Regions from separate parts of the Homo sapiens genome. Here region 2 is linked to region 1. Evidence: fine-mapped expression QTL. A gene starts in region 1. The other region holds a variant in brackets. All regions are shown on one strand. Distances are between the middles of the regions. Region 1 holds the start of AP3M1 (adaptor related protein complex 3 subunit mu 1). Region 2 overlaps ADK (adenosine kinase).

What was found. PIP is the estimated chance that this variant, and not a neighbour inherited with it, causes the effect.
Region 2: its variant is fine-mapped to the expression of AP3M1 in whole blood (TOPMed, PIP 0.91).

Annotation. Positions count from the first base shown.
Region 1 is chr10:74,142,130-74,153,850 of GRCh38, reverse strand. AP3M1 (adaptor related protein complex 3 subunit mu 1) reads left to right here and starts at 3,023. Exons shown (of 9, transcript NM_012095.6): 1 at 3,023-3,096. It overlaps ADK (adenosine kinase), which reads right to left and starts at 2,630. Exons shown (of 11, transcript NM_006721.4): 1 at 2,508-2,630. The coding sequence starts at 2,572. RefSeq lists enhancers at 2,280-2,459, 2,870-3,099.
Region 2 is chr10:74,246,215-74,257,638 of GRCh38, reverse strand. The region is part of intron 3 of ADK (adenosine kinase); the gene reads right to left. It overlaps LOC124902456 (a long non-coding RNA gene), which reads right to left. Exons shown (of 2, transcript XR_007062198.1): 2 at 2,762-11,424. Among named protein-coding and RNA genes, the nearest start is that of ADK, 100 kb to the right of the region's middle. The variant C/T (reference allele first, on the strand shown) is at 4,428.

The DNA of each region.
Region 1 (11,721 bases):
CTGTAGCCTCTTAAGAGGCGATCGCTAAAGAAATGAACTTGGATGAGATTTCCAAAGGAGAGAAAAGAAAACTAAGTTGTCTTAAATATAAGTGATCATCATGGAACACCTTCATCTAGGGAGCAGTTCCCAAAAATGTTTCTCCACTTCTTTCATCACAAAATAGCTCGTCTGTAACACAGGAATCATTGCTCCTACCTCATAGGTCACTGGGAGGGTTAAAAGAGATAACATATATAGAGCACATAGTATAATGTCTAGCACTCAATTAACGTTCCCTTCTTTCCCCTAATCCCACGTGAAAACATGTCAGAGCCTGATTCTTTCTTTATAAGCAACTGTTATATGCTGAAAAGCAACCGAGCCTAGAAAAATAATAGATATTTGAGAAAGGCAGACTAGTCTTGTCAGATGCTCCCTCTAGAACAGATTTCTCAACCTCAACACCGTTGACGTATTTGGCCAGATAATTCTTTGTTGTGGGGGTTGTCCTATGTAGCATGTTTAGCAGCACCCCTGAATTCCATCCACTAGGTGCCAATAGCTCTCCCTACCAAAAATATCTTTCTAGACCACGCCAAATGTCCCCTGGAGGGCAAAATTTCCCCTGGTGGAGAATTATTATCCCAGAGCTGACCAAATTCTCACAAATCCCTAAATCTAAATATTTTTCCTGACATCTACAAATATATCTCATTATTTGTTCCCACTGATGCTGCACATTAAATTATGCAAAGTCTTTATAATCCATTCTCCTTAACCAAAACCAGTAGCAATCCCCTGTCAAGCAAGTCATCATAAATTCAGTGTAAATACTCAATGCATTATCACACTTTGAGTCTGAAAGCAAATTAATATAATAAAAGTAATAATAGCCGATCCTAAAATGTCTCCCCACAAAATTAGAGATTTGTCCCAGTACTCAAGTGTCTAATCTTTTAACTTCATGTCTACAGGTGGCACTAAATTCATATTGTATAAAGTGAATTTTAGTTGCCTAAGGAATGCTCTCACCACAGCCTCACAAAGCACCAGGACTGCAGGTATAAGAAAACATGCTCAGCTAGTTCCTATTTCTGTTCCTGTACTAATTGTTTTATTTGGGCTTCAATATCTTCAATTGTAAAATAGGCATAATTCTTGCCTTCCTTTGATCACAGAACTGTCCAACAAGATAATAAATAGGAAAACACAGTGAAAATGGATCAGCATTATATATAATAATTTTTATTAAGGAAAAATCTAAGGAAATCTAAGGGTTATATGTTCAGTAGGATGGTAGGGAAAAGTTGCATCTGTCTTCCAGTTTGGCGAAGGAGGTGCCTTATAAGGAAATACTCTAATAAAGGGCAGAGTAGGGAAAGCACATGCCTTGAACTCAGGTAGGTCTGATTCAAAAGCCGTTGCTTTTTATTCTGCATATAGTTGGAATATTTAAAATAAAAATAGAATATCCTGAGGGTTTTTATTTTAAAGTTTATGTTCTTGGTATAAGGTAGGCACACTAACCCTTTGAGGGTAGTAGGAATACATTAAAGGAACTGGCAAGGATTTGTTCACCCTCCATTCAAAGCAGCATGAACACACCACCAGGCCCCTAAGTGTCCTTTTCTTTTCAATTGTGAGTGATTCCTTCCTTTGGAGGTGAAGAAGAGTGATACTGGAAGAAATGGGATATGTCCTGTTTAATCAGGAGTGTCCTAATAGTTTTAAATCAGTTTGATATGTCTATTTTAAGATGGAAAAAAAAATCGCTGCCTTTCAGCGAACATTTCCAAATCATCAAAGACTGCCTGCTTCACTTTATACTTATTAGGAAGGGATATTTTAACAAATGACTCTTCATAAGTAAAAGTTGCAACATCAATCACATGTGAGGCAGGTGTTAGGGGCAGCACTGTCCCCGTTGCTGCCAAAAAGTGTAAATAAAAAAGAGAAATCAACCTTTCCTATCCATTCATCCAAATGCTGCCCCTGCAAAGCATCGGAGGGGTCTGGGTCCCTGGTAGAGGGTCCTCAAAGGTACGGGCTTTCAGAATGTGCACGAAAAGGAAGGTCAACGTGCCCTTCCGCAACACTCTGAAAAATCCCCAAGAATTCTGACTTTGCCCCAGTGTACAGCAGTTGCCGAGCCTCTTTCCCGCCATCCCCCGGGAAGAGAAGGCGGCCGCCTACAGACGCTGCTCCGGTCCGACCCTCCGGGGTCGCACCAGCCCAGCCTGGGCTTGCTCGCAGGTGGCGCGGTCAGCCAGCTCGGTCCCCCTGCGGGCCACGACTGGCGAAGGGCTGCTGGAGCCGGAGCTGCACCAGACAGGCGGGGACTCAGCCAAACGGAGAGAACGTCTGGCAAGGGGTCGCGGCCAAGCGGGCAGCTGGGGGAGGTCCTGCGTGTTGGCCCCAAGCTGGCAGTGAGAGACACCACCCAGCGTCGGGGCCGTGCAACCCCACGTGGGCCCTGGCTTGCTTGCAGCGCCGTCACCCTCCTCCCCAAGTCCGGCAGCGCTCACCTCAGCGCTTGCGGCGCCTCCACCTTCAGCTTTTTGGGCTTCGGCTCCTCCTCAGCAGCTGCCATCTTCGCGCTCCCACCCCACTTTGGCTCTACAGCCCACCTCTGCCATCCACTCTCTGGTCCCGCCCCCTCTTCGCATCACCGCTTTCTCTTCTCCAAATCCCGCCCCTCCAGACTCCGCCCATTCTGTGCCGCTGTCATCCACAATCATTGGCTCTATCCGTCGGCACCAACAGCGAATGCCCCGCCCATTCCTGACCCCGCCTCCCCTACCATGAGGGACCCCAGACTGCGTTAGGCAGCAGATGACCGCCTGAATCTAGATGGAGAGAAACCCACCATTTTTCTAGGCCCTGGATTATGTAGAAGATTTAGATACTAAGCCTCAAGAGACGTCTTTCCTCTCATTTACGGTCTTCCTGCATATTTAAAATTTCTAATACGGTAGACAGAGTCGGTGTCTTTGAAGCTGTTAATCAGGCAATTTCCTGGGCACTCCAGCTGCGGGTCCTCGCGGCCTTCTCGGCTTCTCCAGCTTCGGTAGGAGAGGATCCGGCGCCGAATCACTGACTGGCACAGGTGTTGGGGTGAGTGTGAGGGGCGGGAAATCTGTGGACTGGGGACAGCTCCAAAACCCGGGAGTAGGCTGAATAGCTGGGGCCCCCGACTCCGATCTGGGCTCTAGGAGCGTCTTTGGTGCTGTTGGCCCGGGCCTCGCTTCCCCCCCACTCCCGGCCTTCCGGGCTTTCTCGCCAGCAAGGCCAGAAGGGAGCGGTCCACCTGCAGCCCAGTGTTCTCAGGCGCCTGAGCCCCGGAGGTCAAGCTTACTGGGTTCCCCCTCTATAGTGAGCTGGAGTACAGACGGCAGGAATCTCAGTCCCAGGTTTCTGCTTTGGAGGACAAAACCCCAAACGGACCTGAGCAGACGTCCTGTTAGCGGGTGGTGCCTGGAAGAGCCTGGGGTGAGGAATGCAGTGAGAAGGGTGTTGCAGTTCTTCAGGAGAGAGGTAACGGGGTTCTAAGCTGAGCAGGTGGCAGTGAGTGTGGAAGAGTGACGGGCGATGTGGCTGTTTGTATTTGGTAGATTTGTTTGAACCTGAAACTTACAGCCTTATGTGTGATTAAGAAGATGGTGCCAGTGACAGGAGGAGGTATTTTATGGAGTTTGAGTTTTATCGAATTTGAAACAGTGGTTTACATGGAGATTGTAGAAAGACTTTAAAAAAAATTATGAGAATTAAGCCCGAAAGACTTTCAAGGTGAGACCCAAAACAGATGAAGTTTCATATAAAAGGGTAAGAAGTATTTTTGTTTAGGAGAAAGTTATCAATGACATAAAATGCTGCAATGGTCAGAGGAGGAAGCTGAAATCAGAATAGGTCGTTGGATTTTATAATTAGAAAGTCATTGAGCTGTTTGAGAGAGATGCTTTAATAGTAACTGAGGAAAGACTGCAAGTGTAGACCAATCCTTCATCATTTGGGGCATGAAGCAAGATTATTGAGAGTGGCAAGGTGGGGGAAAGTTTGGGGTTTGTTTTAAAGAATACAAGATATCTATTTGGGGGCAGGAAGCAAGCAACTATTTGAAGATTCAAGAAAAAGTCTTGTCTCCCAGAAGAGAAGGAAAGGAATGGGATCAAGTTACAAGTGAAAGGATTAATTTGGGAAAGACAGAGGGACACTTTCAATTGACACTATAGGAGAAGTGAAGTGAATGAGGTTAATGAAGAATTATCTTAATTTACGAATCTTGGCCAGGCGCGGTGGCTCACGCCTGTAATCTCAGCACTTTGGCAGGCTGAAGCGGGCGGATCACAAAGTCAGGAGTTCGAGACCAACCTGGCCAACATAGTGAAACCCTGTCTCTACTAAAAATACAAAAATTAGCCAGGTGTGGTGGCACACGCCTGTAGTCCCAGCTACTTGGTAGGCTGAGGCAGGAGAATCCCTTGAACCCGGGAGGCGGAAGTTGCAGTAAGCTGAGACCTCACCACTGCACTCCACCCTGAGCGACAGAGCGAGACTCTGCCTCGAAAAAAAAAAAAAAAAAAAAAAAAAAAAAAAAAAAAAAACCTTACGTATCTTTAGGAAAGCTCTCTTTGCAACAAGATTATATTTTCTTACTTAATCTTATGATTTTTATTTCTAACCATTTAATATAATATACGGCCAGGCACGGTAGGGCTCATGCCTGTAATCCCAGCACTTTGAGAGGCTGAGGTGGGTGGATCACGAGGTCAAGAGATCGAGACCATCCTGGCAAATATGGAGAAACCCCGTCACTACTAAAAATATAAAAATTATCTGGGCGTGGTGGCACGTGCCTGTAGTCCCAGCTACTCGGGAGGTTGAGGCAGGAGAATCGCTTGAACCCAGGAAGCGGAGGTTGTGGTAAGCTGAGATTGCGCCACTGCACTCCAGCCTGGCAATAGAGTAAGACTCCGTCTCAAAAAAAAAAAAAACAAACCAATATACTATGGGCAGATGGAGTGCGGTGGCTCACGCCTGTAATCCTAGCACTTTGGGTGGGTGAGGCGGGAAAATCACTTGAGGCCAGGAGCTGGAAATCAGCCTGGGCAACATAGCGAGACTCCATCTCTACAAAAAATTTAAACATTAGCCAGGCTTTGTGGCATGTGGTTGTAGTCCTAGCTACTCAGGAGGTAGAGGCAGAATGAGGCAGAAGGATCACTTGAGCCCAGGAGTTCAAAGTTACAGTGAGCTATGATTGGTCCACTGCACTTCAGCCTGGGCAACAAAACAAGACCCTATCTCTTAAAAAAAAATACATATACACATACGCTATGGGAGTTCTTTGCAGATTTAAATATTTTTAAGTAGCTCAGTACTGTGTCAATTCATGAGTAGCACATGGTATTTACAGAGAAGAGGACTTCTCTCTCCCTTTGGAAATGACCTCTCTCCCATTACACAGAGAAGGAGAGCCATCATCTGCCTGCAGTCAAGTATACAAACCTTCCCTTCAATCTGAAGAGTAGAAAGTGTTCCTTCTCCTTAGAGAAGGCAAACCCTTTGACCTAGTCTCTCAGTAGCATCCTCTCCTGCTATGTCAGGGTCCTCTTTCCGTTTTTCCCTCTCTCCTATGTCAGCTTTTCCCCCTCTATTCACACCTTTCCTTCAGCATTTGAATGTATTCTTCCTTCACTTTATGAACTGCTGCATTTATTTTCCTGTCTTTTCATCCTCTTCACAGCTAGACTTCTTGAATCTACTCTACATATCTCTATTTTTTTACACTTCTTGCTATTTATTTCCCAGCCCACTGCAATGTCTTATTTCTAGCATTCCACTGAACTACCACCAAAACTATTTTTTTTTTCTGAGATGGAGTCTTGCTCTTGTCGCCCAGGCTGGAGTGCAATGGCAATCTCGGCTCACTGCAACCTCCGCCTCCAGAGTTCAAGTGATTCTTCCGCCTCAGCCTCCCGAGTAGCTGGGATTACAGGCGCCTACCACCATGCCCAGCTAACTTTTGTATTTTTAGTAGAGACAGGGTTTCGCCATGTTGGCCAGGCTGGTCTCGAACTCCTGACCTCGTGATCTGCCCGCCTCAGCCTCCCAAAGTGCTGGGATTACAGGTGTGAGCCACCGCACCCAGCCCACCAAAACTACCTTTACCAAGATCACCAGTGTCCTCTGTGTGTTAAATCATGCATTCTCAAAGCAGATAAAAACTGCTTCTTGTGAGGTGAAAAAAATATAATACTCTTTTTATGTGTAAAGCACAAATACAATACATAAACAGAGAATATTCTGTGGTATTAAAATTTTATGGTGATATTAATTAGCTTCATTTAATTATTCCACATTTCATAAATCATAACATCTGGTACCCCTAAATATATACAACTATAATTTGTCAATTTACAGTTGAAAAAGAAAGAATAATAAAAAGTTTTATGGGTGAGGAATTTGATTGGCAGGGTGGTGAGAAGATGGAGTCTAAAAGGGCTCCTTAGCAGGCATTAAGGAAAAGAAAGTTTAAAAAACACTCTTAAATCAACAGACATTTTCAATTCTTTTTTGTTGTTGTTGAGATGGAGTCTCGCTCTGTCATCCAGGCTAGAGTGCAGTGGCGCCATCTCGGCTCACTGCAGCCTCCACCTCCCGGGTTCAAGCGATTCTCCTGCCTCAGCCTCCAGAGCAGCCGGGATTACAGGCACCCACCACCACACCCAGCTAATTTGTTGGTATTTTTAGTGGAGATGGGATTTCACCATGTTGGCCAGGCTGGTCTCGAACTCCCGAGCTCAGGTGATACTCCCACTTTGGCCTCCCAAAGTGCTGGGATTATAGGTGTGAGCACCACGCCCAGCTGACATTTTCAATTCTCGTAGCTTAACCTCTTTGTGCCATGTAACAGTATTTACCACTCCATTCTTCTGGAAATACACTAATAAGCTATAGTTACTAAAAACCACCCTGTTTTTTTTTTTTTCTTAGGACTCTTCAGTCACATCTTGGTCATTCTTTAGGTCCACTTCCTTGACCCACCTCCTACTCAAATGTTGGAGTTCCTGCCATAAGCTCTCTTCATACTATGCACATTCTTTCTTTTGTTTCAATTCTCCTTTTGATTAATTCCCATTAACAAAAAATCCTGATTACTTACAATTCTGATTCCAATCTGGCTTCTCTAAAGCACCAGAAGGGTATATATAATAGTTTTTTGAATATATTTATTTGGGTCAGATGTATCCAGAATTGGTCAAATTACACAGGACCAGGCCAAGTGACACATCTCTCTCATCTCCACACACCCCCTCCTCCAAGCCTAAATGTTTTTTAGCACAAAACCTAAATGTTTCTCTTATCTTTTCACTGTACCCCATCCTCATAGTCAAGACTCTAGACCAGGCCATCACCACTCATCTCCCAACTGGTGTCACAGTGTTCAGTTACCGATTATCCAGTTTCCGCAGTGTAATTAGTATGATCTTTCTAAAAATGTAAATCGGATTGCATGATTAATTAAAAAAATTATAAAATGACTTTACATTGCACTAAGAATAAAGTCCAAACTCCTTAACAAGTTTAGCATGCTCCATGAACCAATCAGTCTCTGCTTACCTCCTTGTCCAGTTTCATCTCCCCTCTTCCCTCCACCTTCCATATTTGCTAAATTTATACTGGATTTATTTGTCTTGTGTTCTCTCTCACCTCTAAGCCTTGTAGATTCCCACAGCACACTATATTTCCTGTATCATCGTAGGAATTACATCTTAACTGTATTAAGTTGTCTTCTCTGCTCATCTCTAAATGCTGTGAGTATAGGAACTCTAATTTTGTTTGTTCTTATATACCCAGTGCCTCAAAACTCTGTGTTGAATGAATATGTGGTCAAGATATTGGCTGAGAATCAGAAGAGTAGATGCTTTTCTGGTCTCATTCTCTCAAGTTCAGTATAGGCCCTTCTGTGCCTCCATCATATTATATATAGAAGGAATACATTTTTGTTTTTAGACACTGTCTTCCAAGAATATTTTGACTATTGTAAATGCATTGCTTGTGAATTACCCAGGATGATTATAAAATGTTTAGTAAAAAGGATTTATGATGTATTTAAGCTGCAGTCAAAGCTCTGGTGGGTCTGCCTCTGAACACAGTTTCTTCTAGTGGCTTTTAAATAAGCTGGGAGAATTCTGTTTTATGACTCAAAAGCCACTAGGAACAAAAAGATGGTTGTGGTAATAATGAGTGTGTAGTTTTCTCAGAAAGTTTATGAAAATAATAATTAAAAAAATAACTGCAGCTACCAAAAGGACGATAAATAAAGAAACAGGCTAATTTACACTGCAACATGGTATTATTTAATTGTTATATGCATTAGACCTTGGTCATAATATGGATAGAAGAAGTAAGCTCTCTTTTCCTATTATAGAAGGTTAAGATGGGTTTTAAAGCTAAGCACAGTCGAGAACTTACAAGTGTTATGCTTTCATCTCAGCACTAAGGATAACAACAATAAATCTAGGAGGCTGGTTTAACTTTCTGTATTCTGAGACCTGAACTACTGCCAATAAAAACAACTTCGGTGGAAACTTTCCTGGAAAGAATTTTTCACCAGCTTAAGAGGATGAGTAGAGATCTGGCCCTAAAATAAAGTAACTACAAAATCACTTACTTTCAAAACAAGCAACTCTTTCAGAGTGTATTGTGGCAAAGGAGCACTATAAATCCTTGTGAACTATATTTTCGATAGGATGAATGATTTTAGATAACCTGTGTCGGTGCTTTTAAATATAACTTCCACTCTAAATAATTTATTAAACTTCCTCAGCATAACAACTAGAATGTCTTTTGCCTCCTAACTAAACAAGAAATGTCTTTTACCTCCTCCTCTTAAATCATAAGCTAGGCTGGGTGCAGTGGCTCATGCCTGTAATCTCAGCACTTTGGGAGGCTGAGGCGGGCGGATCACGAGGTCAGGAGTTCGAGACCAGCCTGGCCAACATGGTGAAACCCCATCTCTACTAAAAATACAAAAAATTAGCTGGGCATGGTGGCGCATGCCTGTAATCCTAGCTACTCGGGAGGCTGAGGCAGGAGAATCGCTTGAACCCAGCAGGCGGAGGTTGTGGTAAGAGGAAATCGTGCCATTGCACTCCAGCCTGGGCAATAGAGCAAGACTCCGTCTCAAAAAAAAAAAAAAATCATAAGCTAAAGCAGCACATTCATGCACTGTTCAATATATTAACTACTAACCATATATGGTTATTTAAATTTAAATTAATTAAAATTAAAACTTCAGGCTAGGCTTGGTGGCTCACACCTGTAATCCCAGAACTTTGGGAGATCAAGGTGGGAAGATCACTTGAGCCCAGGAGTCCAGGATCAGCCTGGGCAATATAGGCAGACTTTGTCTCTACAAAACAAAAATTTGAAACTCAGCTGTGTGTGGTGATGCACGCCTGTAAGCCCAGCTACTCAGGAGACTGAAGTGGGAGGATCGCTTGGGCTCTGGAGGTGGGCGTTGGAGTGAGCCAAGATGACGCAGCTGCACTCCAGCCTGGGCAACAGAGCGAGACCCTATCTCAAAAAAAAAATAAAAATAAAAAAGCCGGGCATGGTGGCTCACGCCTGTAATCCCAGCACTTTGGGAGGCCGAGGCGGGTGGATCATGAGGTCCGGAGATCGAGACCATCCTGGCTAACATGGTGAAACCCCATCTCTACTAAAAATACAAAAAATTAGCCAGGCGTGGTGGCGGGCTCCTGTAGTCCCAGCTACTCGGGAGGCTGAGGCAGGAGAATGGTGTGAACCTGGGAGGCGGAGCTTGCAGTGAGCAGAGATCACGCCATTGCGCTCCTGTCTGGGAGACAGAGCAAGACTCCGTCTCAAAAAAAAATTAATTAAAATTTCAAAAAAATTAAAACTTCAGTATTGGGTACATTAGCCACATTTCAAGTGCTCAATAGCCATGGGTGTAGTGGCTACCATATTAGCACAGATAAAGGACATTTCCATCATTGCAGAAAGCCCTGTTGGACAGTGCTGTATTAGAACGTGTTCCTAATAATTAGTCTCTACAAGGCAGATAAGAGCAGGAGCTCAGAATTCAGCTGGATTTAGGTTTGAATCCTAGCTTACTGCGTGATCTTAGGTAATTGACCTAACTTTTCTGAGATGACATTGTCTTATCTGTAAAATGGGGATAATAGTAGTATTTATGGTGTAGCATTGTGAAAATAAGATGAGATAAAGTGTCTAGCATAGTGTCTGGCCCATAATAAGTACTCAATACATTTTAGATAGTATTAATTCATTTATTATTCATTATCTTTAATGAATAAAACACTTTGAATGGGGACTGAGTACAGTAGCTTCACTTTGGGAGGCGAAGGCAGGCGGATCACTTGAGGCCAACATGGTGAAACCCCATTTCTACTAAAAACAGAAAAACTAGCTGGGCATGGTGGTGCACACCTGTAATCCCAGCTACTGAGGAGGCTGAGGCACGAGAATTGCTTGCCCATGGGAGACGGAGGTTGCAGTCAGCAGAGATCACACCACTGCACTCCAGCCTGGGTGACAGTGGGAGACTCTGCTCAAACAAACAAACAAGCTTTGTTCCCAAGTAGCTGGGATTACAGGCGCACGCCACCATGCCCGGCTAATTTTTGTATTTTTAGTAGAGACAGGGTTTTGCCATGCTGGCCAGGATGGCCTTGAACTCCTGACCTCAGGTAATCCACCAGTCTTGGCCTCCCAAAGTGCTGGGATTACAGGCGTGAGCCACTGTGCCTGGCCAAAAATAACCACATTGAATGGGGCCAAAAGATTAATTTTTGCAAAGAATGCTGTGTTCCATATGTGACTCACCTGAAGTGCCCAAATCTGAGTCTGCTTGTGGATTACAGTGCTCCACTTGAAGTCATACATTATATATTTCAGATGCTGATTTTCTTCCAAGAAAAAGGTGTAATAATAAAAATTTAGTTGCAGATCTTATGGTTGGATATTCCTGTTTCATTTAAAAAATGAAAATGAAAAGTTTATCAGCTAAAGATTATAGTTAAAATCAGCAGGTTCTATATAGCAAGTCTAAGTATTCTAATGGCACTTATATTAATACCCAGACAGAAATATAAGACACAAAGCAAGCCTACTAAGCAAAGCATCTGACTAGATAAAGTAGAAAAATTTGGCAGGTTCCAACCCTGAGGTGTCAGAGTTTATTGCTAATAACTCAAGTTGATTTCTTGGCTAAACAGAGGGCTTTAAACAAAGAAATTTTTTGGTTCTAATTAAACAGGAACCCTAAACTGTTAACAGTATTCATACTTTATTAATACAATAATTACTAAAACATATCTTAGTAACTAGTATTATTGATAACTACTGAACATGTGTCGAATGGGAAGAGGAGATCATCACCACATATTCTTTAAATGTCAGCCGCTTTCATAAAAGAAAGGGTTGATGTTGTTTTCTGTCAACAGAATCAAATGAATCAATTCTGGAAAGTCTTCCTTTCCTCTTTGGAATTTATCTTCATTCATAGAAACTGTATTCATAGGTCTTAAATTCTTTCTTCTTAGACTATAGTACTATTACTTGGAATGATTGAGCCACTAGACTAAACACCTGATACTGGTGCTTATACACGTAAAAGATAGGAACAAGGTAAGATAATTAGACATTTTTCCATTGTCCCCCATATTGCAGGGACAATAAACTTCTTATAGG
Region 2 (11,424 bases), 100 kb before region 1:
TAATCAATAAACCACCATAAGAATGTCATATAGAAAGACTAAAGTATCTATAGATTATGTATAGATGATTATTCTAAATTAAATTTCAAAAACAATATGCTCAATTGATATAAAATTATAAATTGCTTTATTAACTCATATTTTTCATTTAAGTATTAATATCACCACACTCACTTTAAAACATACATATAGATTATTATGAAACTTTGAATATCAAAGTACCATTTAGATTTCCTTATTATGCAAATACTGACTATAAAATACAGTTGACCCTTGAATGAAGTGGGTTTGAACTGCGCAAGTCCACCTACAGGCTGAAATTTTTCAACCAAATGTGGATTGAAAATACAGAATTCACAGGATACGAAACTTGCGCATACAGAGAGCCAACTTTTCCTTTATGTAGGTTTCACAGCACCCACTGTGGGACTTAACATATTTGTAGACTTGGGTCCTGGAACCACCCGCCCATGTATACTGAAGGATGACTGTAATATCATGTAAAATATAAAGTTCAGTAACCTATAAAATTGCAGTTGTCTTCAATTTTTACCCATTTTTGTAATGGATTTAATATCACACTTTTATTTAACAAATTAAAGATAAGTCAATTTTAGTCTCTTTCAAAATGACTCTTAGTTGCAGTAACTCATTTTGGTTTACACATATTATGAGAACTTTTATGTTACTATGTTACCTAAGTTATTGTGCTTTCAAAAATTTCTCTAAATCAGAGAGGTAAAAAATTTTCTATAAATGTCTGTACTTCTACAATGATTCCTTCAAAAATACTGTTTTGATATATGGTTGCATCAATAAAAACACGTTAGGTTCATGTACCATTTATCAGGTAAGAACTGCAAAATATCAGTGGCTTAAAACAATAAGGTCATTTTCTTGCTTACACTAGCTGTTCATCATAAGTCATTTGAGGACTCCACCCCACATCTTTTCATCTCAGTACCCAAGATGATGGAGCAATCACCATCTCACATTTTACCAGTTATCATGGTAAATGGAAAGAGTAGTCTGGACAGTCTTGCACTGGTAATTAAATGCTCTGGCCTGTAAAAACATTATTTTACTTCTGCTCACAACTAAGCATAATTATCTGAGAAAGTTTACCCTTCAAAAAGTTTAAATCTTTACAATTTCAAAAAAAAAATGTTTACCTCACTAAGAAGGCCATGAAGATAGGTTACATAATGTTCACTAAAGACGAAGAGCATTCCAGGTTCCTTTTTGTATTAAATGACTATCAAATCATAACAATCAGTTCTTGCCAAATCTGCTAAACATATAACCAGGATAATGTTAAGTACTCTTTCAAAACTGCAAATTTGACCACATCACTTGCTTAAAATCCTCTAATCTTCTCAGCATGGCGCTCCATGAAATGATCCCTGACTGCCTTTCTGTCAACTCTGAATACTCAATAAAATTTACAAAATGCTCCAAGGGAGACAAAACTAATAAATATGCTGCACGCAGGCTTTCCTGCCTTTTCACATGTCAGAATGCTTTCTCTGCCACCTCCACTTGAAAGCTTCCTCTTCCTTCAACTAAGCTTAAGCCTATCGCCACTGTGAAGCTTTTCTTGACTCTGATTACAACACCCAAAGGATTTTGTACTCCCTCAACACTGATTCCAGATCTGCACTGTGACTGTTCGTTGACTACCCAGTTATGAGCTTCTCAAAGGCAGACACTATTATTTACAAATATGAGTCCCTGGTATGAGACATTTAGTGGCTAACAAATGTCTAGAAAATGACTAAAGTTCCACAGTGCCAAAGAATGGTCTTAAAGAACAGCAGTATGTTTTAGAAATGAAGAATACCTGTTCTGACTGTCCATGGAGAGATAACTGCAAAAGTAAGTTTGCTTAACAAATTCCTTTTAGTATCTAAATGCTAGAGCTAATTTTGTTGGTGGCAATTCTAATAAATTAACTTAAAGTTATAGGACATTGAACTAATTTTTCTTTCATTCATTCCCCAGACTTTTATTTATTCAACTCAGATGTACCAAATGCCAGGATCTATGAGAAATTCTAAGAATGGCATTCATGTTAGTGGAGCTGTTGTCATCATTATACATATTGGACTGTCAAATTATGCCCCCAGTTAATTGACAAGATAGACTCCTTGTGGCTCAAAGGTAAAAGCAGAACCAAGAGGCAATGACAGGGTAAGGGAGCAATTATACCCTGTGTCCTTAAAAGTGTTGCAAAACCTGTTTTTCTGCCACCAAGTCAAAGAACAGTTCCTTTTGGTGATCATTTGGAAATTCCCCAAATGATCACCAAAAGACCACCTGGTGCCAACTGACCAACCACCTGGAAACAACCAACTAAGACACACTGGTGATTTGGGGATTAAAGGTCATCTAATCAAGACTTTATTCCTTACTTCCTTGACCCCACCTCCCCTGTCCTACAATTTTTGCCTTTATAATTTCTAACTCTCCAACCCCCAACTAGGACCTCATTTTCATTTTACACCACAGGCTGCATATCCCCAACCTACTATTGTTTTCTATAGAAAAATAAAGCTGTCCTTTTTTCCTCCATGGATCTCATGGTCTTTTGTTACATGACAAAAATAGGCTGTTTAATATTTTACTCATCTAAATTTTTAATATCTGATGTTCACTTTGACCATCAACATAACAAGAAAATACTGTACAGCATAATTTTATATTAACACAATTCACTGTAGTTATTAAAAAGTTTGAACAATGATTATCCACTAGCCATAAAACTCTCAACAGTTTAATAGCAAATAAACAAAGGAAGGTATCACACTTGGCAAATACAAAATGACTATTTGTCCATTGTGTCTGTGCAACTAAAACAGATTTAGGTTCCCCATTGGTACAAAAGGAAAAACACACAAAAAAAGAAGGAGATTCCTTTTAAACACAGAGCTCTTTGCTCCAAACTTGTAACAATTTTTTTTTCTTTTTACATTCACTACACAAACTCTGTGATTAGATAAGAAAAGTAACAAGGGCTATTCTTTTTTTTTTAACTGTCAACTTTTTGAAGTGTGTTATTGAATAATATTTTTCAGGTATACAATTTTAATATGAAACATTTTAATCAAAAGCAATCTGACATTAAAATACATAATTTTCTTTTTAGAAGAAAAAATGAGGAAATAAAAAAAAGAGGCATATCTAGATCCAGCAACCGAACCTGAAAGGTAAATATTAAAAATACTGCATTTGGTGTTTTTGGTGAGCTAATTCCTTTTTTACAATTTGTGGGACTCTATTTAAGGAAAGGAATACAAAATTAGGTGTGAAGTAAATATCTGGAATGAGAAAATAAATTACAACTAAACACTAACTTTAAAAGGCTAACAAATGCCAAAAACATGAATTTCAAAAAGAAGAGCATATCTTTATTAATTGCCTAATCTATCTCTATAATGCTCTTATTTTCTTACATTTCTGGCTGCATTTCTTGATTTCCTCTTCATATAACAATTTTGCAACATTAAGAGAATAGAAAGATAATTTTATCTTTTTACTACTGTGTTTGATCAATTTTTAGTACTGACAGTGTAGGCCAGGCACGGTGTCTCACACCTGTAATCCCAGCACTTTGGGAGGCTGAGGCGGGCGGATCACTTGAGGTCAGCAGTTCGTGACCAGCCCGGCCAACATGGTGAAACCCCATCTCTACTAAAAATACAAAAATTTGTTAGGCATGATGGTGCGTGCCTGTAGTCTCAGCTGCTCAGGAGGCTGAGGCAAAAGAATCACCTGAACCTGGGAGGCAGAGGTTGCAGTGAGCAGAGATCACACCCCTGCACTCCAGCCTGGGTGACAGAGGAGACTCCATCTTAAAAAAAAAAAAAAAAAAAGGCAGTGTAGAGAGTTTATATCAGCTTTATAACTTCTTTATAACTTATTACTGATAATGTCATATACATTCTTAGGAATATTATCAAATTTACGAAAACCACAATCAAGTTCCAAGATTTAGAAAAATTTTCCAGACTAGTTTCTCACTCTAAACACTTAAACGATGTTTCTCTTCCTCTACCTCTACCACAAAGAACATATTTATAATGCTCTAAGACCCTTGCCCCTACTGAGTTAGGAGGCAGGACTTGACTCTAGAGACAGGTTCAGACACCCAATTAAATTGAGGACTAGCTGAAAGATGATTAGGCAGAAGAAGCTTTCCATCAGACACACCCACCAGTGTGCCATGTCAACACTGCTATGAGAACACCCAGGAGTTACCACCACTTTCCATGGCAATGACCCAATGACCCAAAAGTTACTATCCCTTCCCTAGAAATTTCTGCATAAACCACTCCTTAATCTGCATGTTATTAAAAAAGGGTATTAATAACTGCCCTGAACTGCTACTCTCTGCCTACGGGGTAGCCCTGCTCTGCAGGAGCAGTCAC[C/T]GAGCTATAACACCACCAGAGCTGTAACACTGCCTGTTCAATAAATCTATTTTCTTCTACCTCTGGCTTGCCCTTGAATTCTTTTCTGGGCAAAGCCAAGAACCCTCACGGGCTGAGCCCCACTTTGGGGCTCACCTGCCCTGCAAAACTACATCTATGTATCACAAGGCCAGGGAAGTAGACACAGTGGACAGTAATAACATTCCTGGAAGTAATGCCTACAAAATAACTGGACACATAAACAACTGCTAACCATATACTATCTCTAAATGTATCCTCTACTCAATTTTCCCTTAGCTCAGGCCACTCTAATGCCACCCAATATGAGGGTATGATACAGGGAAAGTCTAAGTGAAAAGGAATAGCAGTTTTAATGGATTAAATACCTAACTTTTGCAAATCTTACCCCGCCTCACCCAAAATATTATGTTAACACATTGCTTGAGATTCTTCCAGAGTCTTGGAAGGACCCTGAAACGTAGGTTAACTGTCTACAAACTAAATCCATTTCTATTTCCTAACCTAATCTGAACACTTACTTTCTATTCCTTTTACCTACAGAAACTGTCAGAATAATCAGACTCATTTCCTCAATGACACTTTGCTACCTTTAACATATATAAGATCTGTTTTCTAGAGCATGATCATCTCCAACTTCTACACCAATTAAATTAGGTGCAGTGACACAAAAATTGTCTTCTATTCCTGTTTTAATTGTGTCTCAACAGTAATGCAAGCCCTACAGTGCCTTTCTATTTACTTCAGACAAAGATAAACACTGCAGATCCCAGTTAGGTTTCTTTCAGTGATAAGTATCGTTTAAAAGAAAAAAACTGTTAGTAGCCTTAAAAAGTCCTTGTTTCACACAGCCTAATAAATTCCCTCTAATTTCATGTAAGACCTAGTCCTGAGGCACAATAGCTTTAGGAATGGGTAATTTAGAAGTTCAACAAGATCATTAAGGATCCAAGTTCTCACCATCTTTTCACTGTGCCATCCAGTGTTTTGGTTTTATCCTGACCTAGGCCCCAAATAATTCCAAGATAGCTCTCACAATTCCAAGAACCCATCTAGATAGAAACATCCAAAAATGAGGGGAGAGGAGGTGTTACCTTTCCAAGAAGCCCCTCCACCAAACCTCCCCTCATGTCTCATTGGCCACAAATGAGTTATTGGTCAGATATCAGTCCTATGTTCAGGTCTTAATTAATGACTAGCAAGAAAAATGGGATAATCATGAGTGGCCTAGACTATACAGAATTTACTCACATCACACGGTAAAGAGGTGAGTCGACAAAAAAAAAAAAAAAAAAAAAAGTATCTGCCACAAGGAAAACAGCAGTAATGAATGGCTGTGGAGTAAGCTTCTTATTAAGTAAATTGGATAGCTAATTTTGACATTAATTACAGACCTTAGCTATGACATAAATCTGATTACAGGAAAGGGCTAGATGATGTTTTAGATTCATTACAACTCTTATGTTCTACAAGACAGGCAAATAATATAGTGGTTAAAAGCTTGAGTTTTAATGTCAGATTGTCCTGGGTTTGAATACCCATCCACCACTTATTTGCTGTAACAATCTTGGTCAAGTTATCTTCCCTTTTCTGAAAATCCAGATAGTAATAATATTTAACTCATATTGCTAGGAGAATTAAATGGATGATGAATGCAAAATGCTTAGCATTTTACCTAAACTTCACAGGAAGTAATCAATAAATATTATCATCAGTCTATAACATATAAACTATAATTATTATAATTTTTGTACTACTAATTTAGAATTTGTGATAACTAAAACACAGGTTATTTCAAAACCAGAAAAATTATTGATTCTACCTCCAATATATGATAAATAACAAACTGAGGATTTGAGAGGTTTAATGACACACTGAACAGCTATCTCTTCCCCCTACTCCTCCTCCTTTCTCTTGAATAGGCATCTCCTCCACTTAGAATTTAAATGCCTCCAACATTCCCTTAGGTTTACTCCTGCCCTCAATATTACAAAACCAAATTCATTGCTTCCCTCAACCATATTGCTTTTCCTTTTGAAGTTAATAGTACCAGCATTTAATTATGCAGACACTAAACACAAAACTTCAAAATCTTTTTCAACGCCCTCTCTCCATATGGATCACTCACTAAATCCTGTCAGTTCTAACTCTGGACCAGGCATGGTGGCTCATGCTTGTAATCCTAGCAATTTGGGAGACTGAGATGGAAGAATCGCTTGAGCTCAGGATTTTAAGACCAGCCTGGGCAACATAATGAGACCTTGTCTCTACCAAAAATAAAAATAAAAATAAAAAATTGGCCAGCCATGGTGGCACACATCTGTAGCCCTAGCTGCAGTGAGCTGTGATCATGTCACTGCACTCCAGCATGGGTGACAGAGCAAGACCCTGTCTCAAAAAAATGAAGCAAAACAAAAATACCTCTGAATTTGATTTTTAATCCATCCCTGTGTTCTAAAGTCACTACTACTACTACCCTATAAGAGACCCTCATTATTTCATTCATATCTATTATGAAGTTTTCAAACTGGTATACCTGCCTTTCCATAGCCTCAACTTCTCACTACTTCATCCTGTATTCTATCAACTATCTTTGTAAACTGCAGACTAAGTATGTTTGCCTGCTGAAAAATCTTCCACAGGTCCCCAACTAACTGTAAAATAAAAAGCCAACTTTAACCTTGTATATAAAACTTTTCACAATTCGGCCTGAACCTACGTTGTAGCTTCTTCTTTTACCTCTCCCTCCATGACATACCCAGTGTTTTACCCAAACTACACAATATCTCACCATTCTCCAAACAGACCTTGCCTACTTCTGTGTGTTCATGAAGAACCCTCTATTTGGGGAATAGGAGTAACTTCTCCTTTGATCTCCCTATACCCGACTATTTCTACTCATCCTCAAATATTAGTTCTCTATGATAGCTTCTTGCATACCTCACAGCTAGAGAAAATTACTGTTCTTGCAGAATATTATTTGTAATTATATCATAGCCATCATCACACTATATAATAGCTAGTTACTGCCTGTCTATAACTCCAAATAGACTGAATTTTTTTCAGGGCCAGGTTGTATCTTACTCATCTCTGCATTTCTAGTACATAGAGTAAGCATTCAGTAACAACTGGTAAATGGATGAATAGGGAGAGAGTGGCGCAATAAGTCTTCAGAAGCTCTTGTACTTCACATATTACTAAAAATACTTATTGAATAGGAAATTTAAAGCTCAATTCTACATTCTCTATTAGAGTATAAACTATGAGTGCAGGAAAATTACTGTCTGGCACTGTATTCAGTGTCTAAAATAGGGCTTTACACATAGTATAAAACTAACAAATATTAGTTAAATGAATAAATACATGAATTGATAAATTGAAGAACTGAATGATCTGGTAATTTGCGTATGACAGGATAACGGGAAAACCCTTTCATTCATTTCTGGTTGAATTTCTCAACTATTTAAACATCACACATATCTGTGTATCTAAGAGCAAGATTCTACGATGCCACATATCTTATTTGGAAGAAGGTGATAATCTATCAATCAGTATTTATTGCTTCAAATTGGCTCATTTTACCATTCATTTCCTACTTAAGCCCTATAGTAATTGAACTTTGTAAGACCTATGTCAGGCCTTAAATATATGATGAACAAATAAAACTGTGTGTGTGTGTGTGTGTGTGTGTGTGTGTATGCATGTACATGCATATACAATAAAACAACATAACATCTCAATTTCTTTCTGAAAGTCTTAAGGATATAAACTATATACAGAGAAAAATAGAAGCATAGACACAGTGACACACGAATGCCCCACTCACAAATGAAAACAAAACAAATATTTTGCAATGATCCATTTACTTCTAGTGTTTTGGGCTTTCAACTCTATAGTCATAAAAAATGTTCAAAACTAATAGTAAGAACACTATTTTCCTCTAGCATGCCTAAAAAACATTAAAGAAAATAAGAAAAGCTAGAGCCTTCCTCCCACTAAATACTTTGTTAAATTAAGAAGAAATATGTTTTAGTGTAGTCATCATTTCAGTAATTATATTCCAAAGAACCCTATAACTTGTAAAACCAGCAACAACCGAAGAGAATTTCACACAAATTTTGGCCATGGAATACTTTATTGGAAGACATGAAAAATAGATAGTGGCAAAAAGCAGCAGAAAATATTTATAATCATAAAGCAATGAGAAAATATACACCAAAATATCATCAATTCATTTATGTCTTCCAGTGGGCTTTATCCTCCTTTCTAATGTTTATCATCCTTTTCTCTGCCAAATTTCTGCTACCAATCTATCATCTCTTCAAATGGTTTGCAATAAAATGAACAAACAAAACTCATCCTCCTTCAAGGAGAATTGATGTCAGTGATCATGGTGAGACCACAGATCCATAAAATCTTTAGGTTAACAGAGCAGCTGATATAAAAGTAGAATACATCTGCTAAACCAACTGCCTTTTTATACTTGTTTAAAAAGTTATTTTGAACAAGTATACTCAAACACTTAATAAAAGAATTTGAAGGCTGGGCACGGTGGATCATGCCTGTAGTCCCAGCACTTTGGGAGGCCAAGGCAGGCAAATCATGAGGTCAGTAGATCAAGACCACCCTGGCCAACATGATGAAACCCCGTCTCTACTAAAAATACAAAAAATTAGGTGTGGTGGCACGTGCCTGTAATCCCAGCTACTCGGGAGGCAAAGGCATGAGAATCGCTTGAACCCAGGAGGCGGAGGTGGCAGTGAGCTGAGATTGCACCACTGCACTCTAGCCTGGTGACAAGCGAGACTCCACCTCAAAAAAAAAAGCAATCTGAAAGGTCATGTAACCCAATTAACCCTCCATCTACTGATTCATTTGCTAGTACTCCTACTAACAGTCAATAATCTGGTCTATGCTTTAATGCCTCATAAGAAAGGGAACTCACTACTTCCAAACAAGCTGATTCTATTTTTGTATTTCTTTACTACTAGAAAGTTTTCCTTTATTGAGCAAAAATCACTCAGTCCATGTCTTCTACACGAAGGAAGCCCCTCAAAGGAAGAGGGATATTATGTATATCCTAATTATCTTTCTTTGAATTAAAATTACGCAGTTTCTTTATGACATAGTTTTAAATTCATTCAACAATTAAAAGGAGGGGGTTAGAATCTACCACCCCCACCATGAGGCTCAACCTGAGAAATAATACATATCCATCAAAAAAGCAGCATATGTGTAATTATTATCCTCTTGATAAAATTTTTAAAATTTTAAAACAGAACACTTGTTCTTCTGTAGGTGGGCTGCCATAAATGCCCAGGGAAGCTTGTAACCAATGTTTTGTTGTTGAAGAAGGGGGGAAAAAAAGGAAAAAAGACAGTAAAAGAGTCTCTAAAACACAAGAACCTATTTCTTTGCCCTCAACATTATTCTTTCTGACGCTAAGGTTACACTGTTTCATATATCAATTCCCTTTTTCTAGACATTTTTTGAGTTTAAAAAAACACCATTTTATTGTTGTTGAAAAAGTAGGTCAATATTCCTAATTTACTCATGTACTTAATAAAGTTAGTTAAAATATCAAATGAAGAAACTGTTAAAGGAGCTGATGGTTGGTATTAGGTTGAAGAATATCTAAACAGCAAAACTGCTAATAAAATATATCAGGCCAGGCAAGGTGGCTCATCCCAACATTTTGGGAGGTCAAGGCTAGCTGATCACTTAAGCCCAAGAGTTTGAGACCAGCCTGGGCAACAAAAAATACCCTTCTCTACAAAAAACACAAAAATTAGCCAGGCATGGTGGCACGTGCCTGTAGTCCCAGGTACTCAGGAGGCTGAGGTGGGAGGATCACTTGAGCCCAGGCAGTGAAGGCTGCAGTGAGCCATGACTGCACCACTGCACTCCAGCCCCCGAGCCTAGCTGACACAGCAAGACTCTGTCTCAAAAAAAAAAAAAAAAAAAAAAAACTTAAAAAAAAAAAAATCAAAAAAAGCCAGATGTCAGTGATCCAAGAATCAGCTAAGCCAAAAACTGGATGAGTGTACTTAACTAAACTAACCTCTCTGGGCTCATAGTATTCTCATCTATGAAATGAGGATAAAGAATTAGGATCATAAGTTCTCAGACACTTTCATCTCAGGACCACTTTACACTTTAAAAAGAGTATCGAGTAATTCAAGGAGCTTTAATATCTAGCCCTAGTTATCATATTAGAAGTTAAAATATAACTTTTTTAAATATTTATTATTTTAAGAATAAATTCATTAAATGTTAATGTAACATTTTATGAAAATAACTATTTCCAAACTAAAAAACATCTTAGTGACAAGAGAAGCACTGTTTTATAATCTTTGCAAATCTCTTTAATGTCTGGCTTATGAAGCCAAAATTATAGGCCACTGTTTTGAACAAAACTCCTACACTAGGCTCCAAAAGAAGACCAGACTAAAAATCAAAATGGAGTCACCCATGCTCACCAAACCCAAACTGAGTTGTTATCTTGACTTTCTAAAAAATCAGGAGAGACAGATAACAGCCTAATATCCCAAACAGGACAATTTTCAATATTCAATGCACATGATAATGAAGTATTCAATGGGCATGATAATGAAGTTTCCTCTGTTTTAATCCCTAATCTGAAGTAACCTGATATTAACCAGTCTTTCTATTGTCCTGTCTCCCCATCCAGACCTTACAAGAGAATTCACTTTGAAATGACCAATCTGCTTTCTTCAGCCCTTTCTGTCTATAAAACCAACCATCTGCTCAACTCATTAGAACACACACTCTACTTTATGGAATGAAGTATTGCCTGATTCTAGAATCACAATAAAGCTGACTGAGATCTTTAAACTAAATTTGTTGTAACTTTGTCTTTTGACAGAACTGCTAGAGTTTCATATAACTTGTACATTCAATCAGTATGGCATGGTATGCAACCTCTAGAAAACTCCACCTATGCTCATGAGAGAATGAG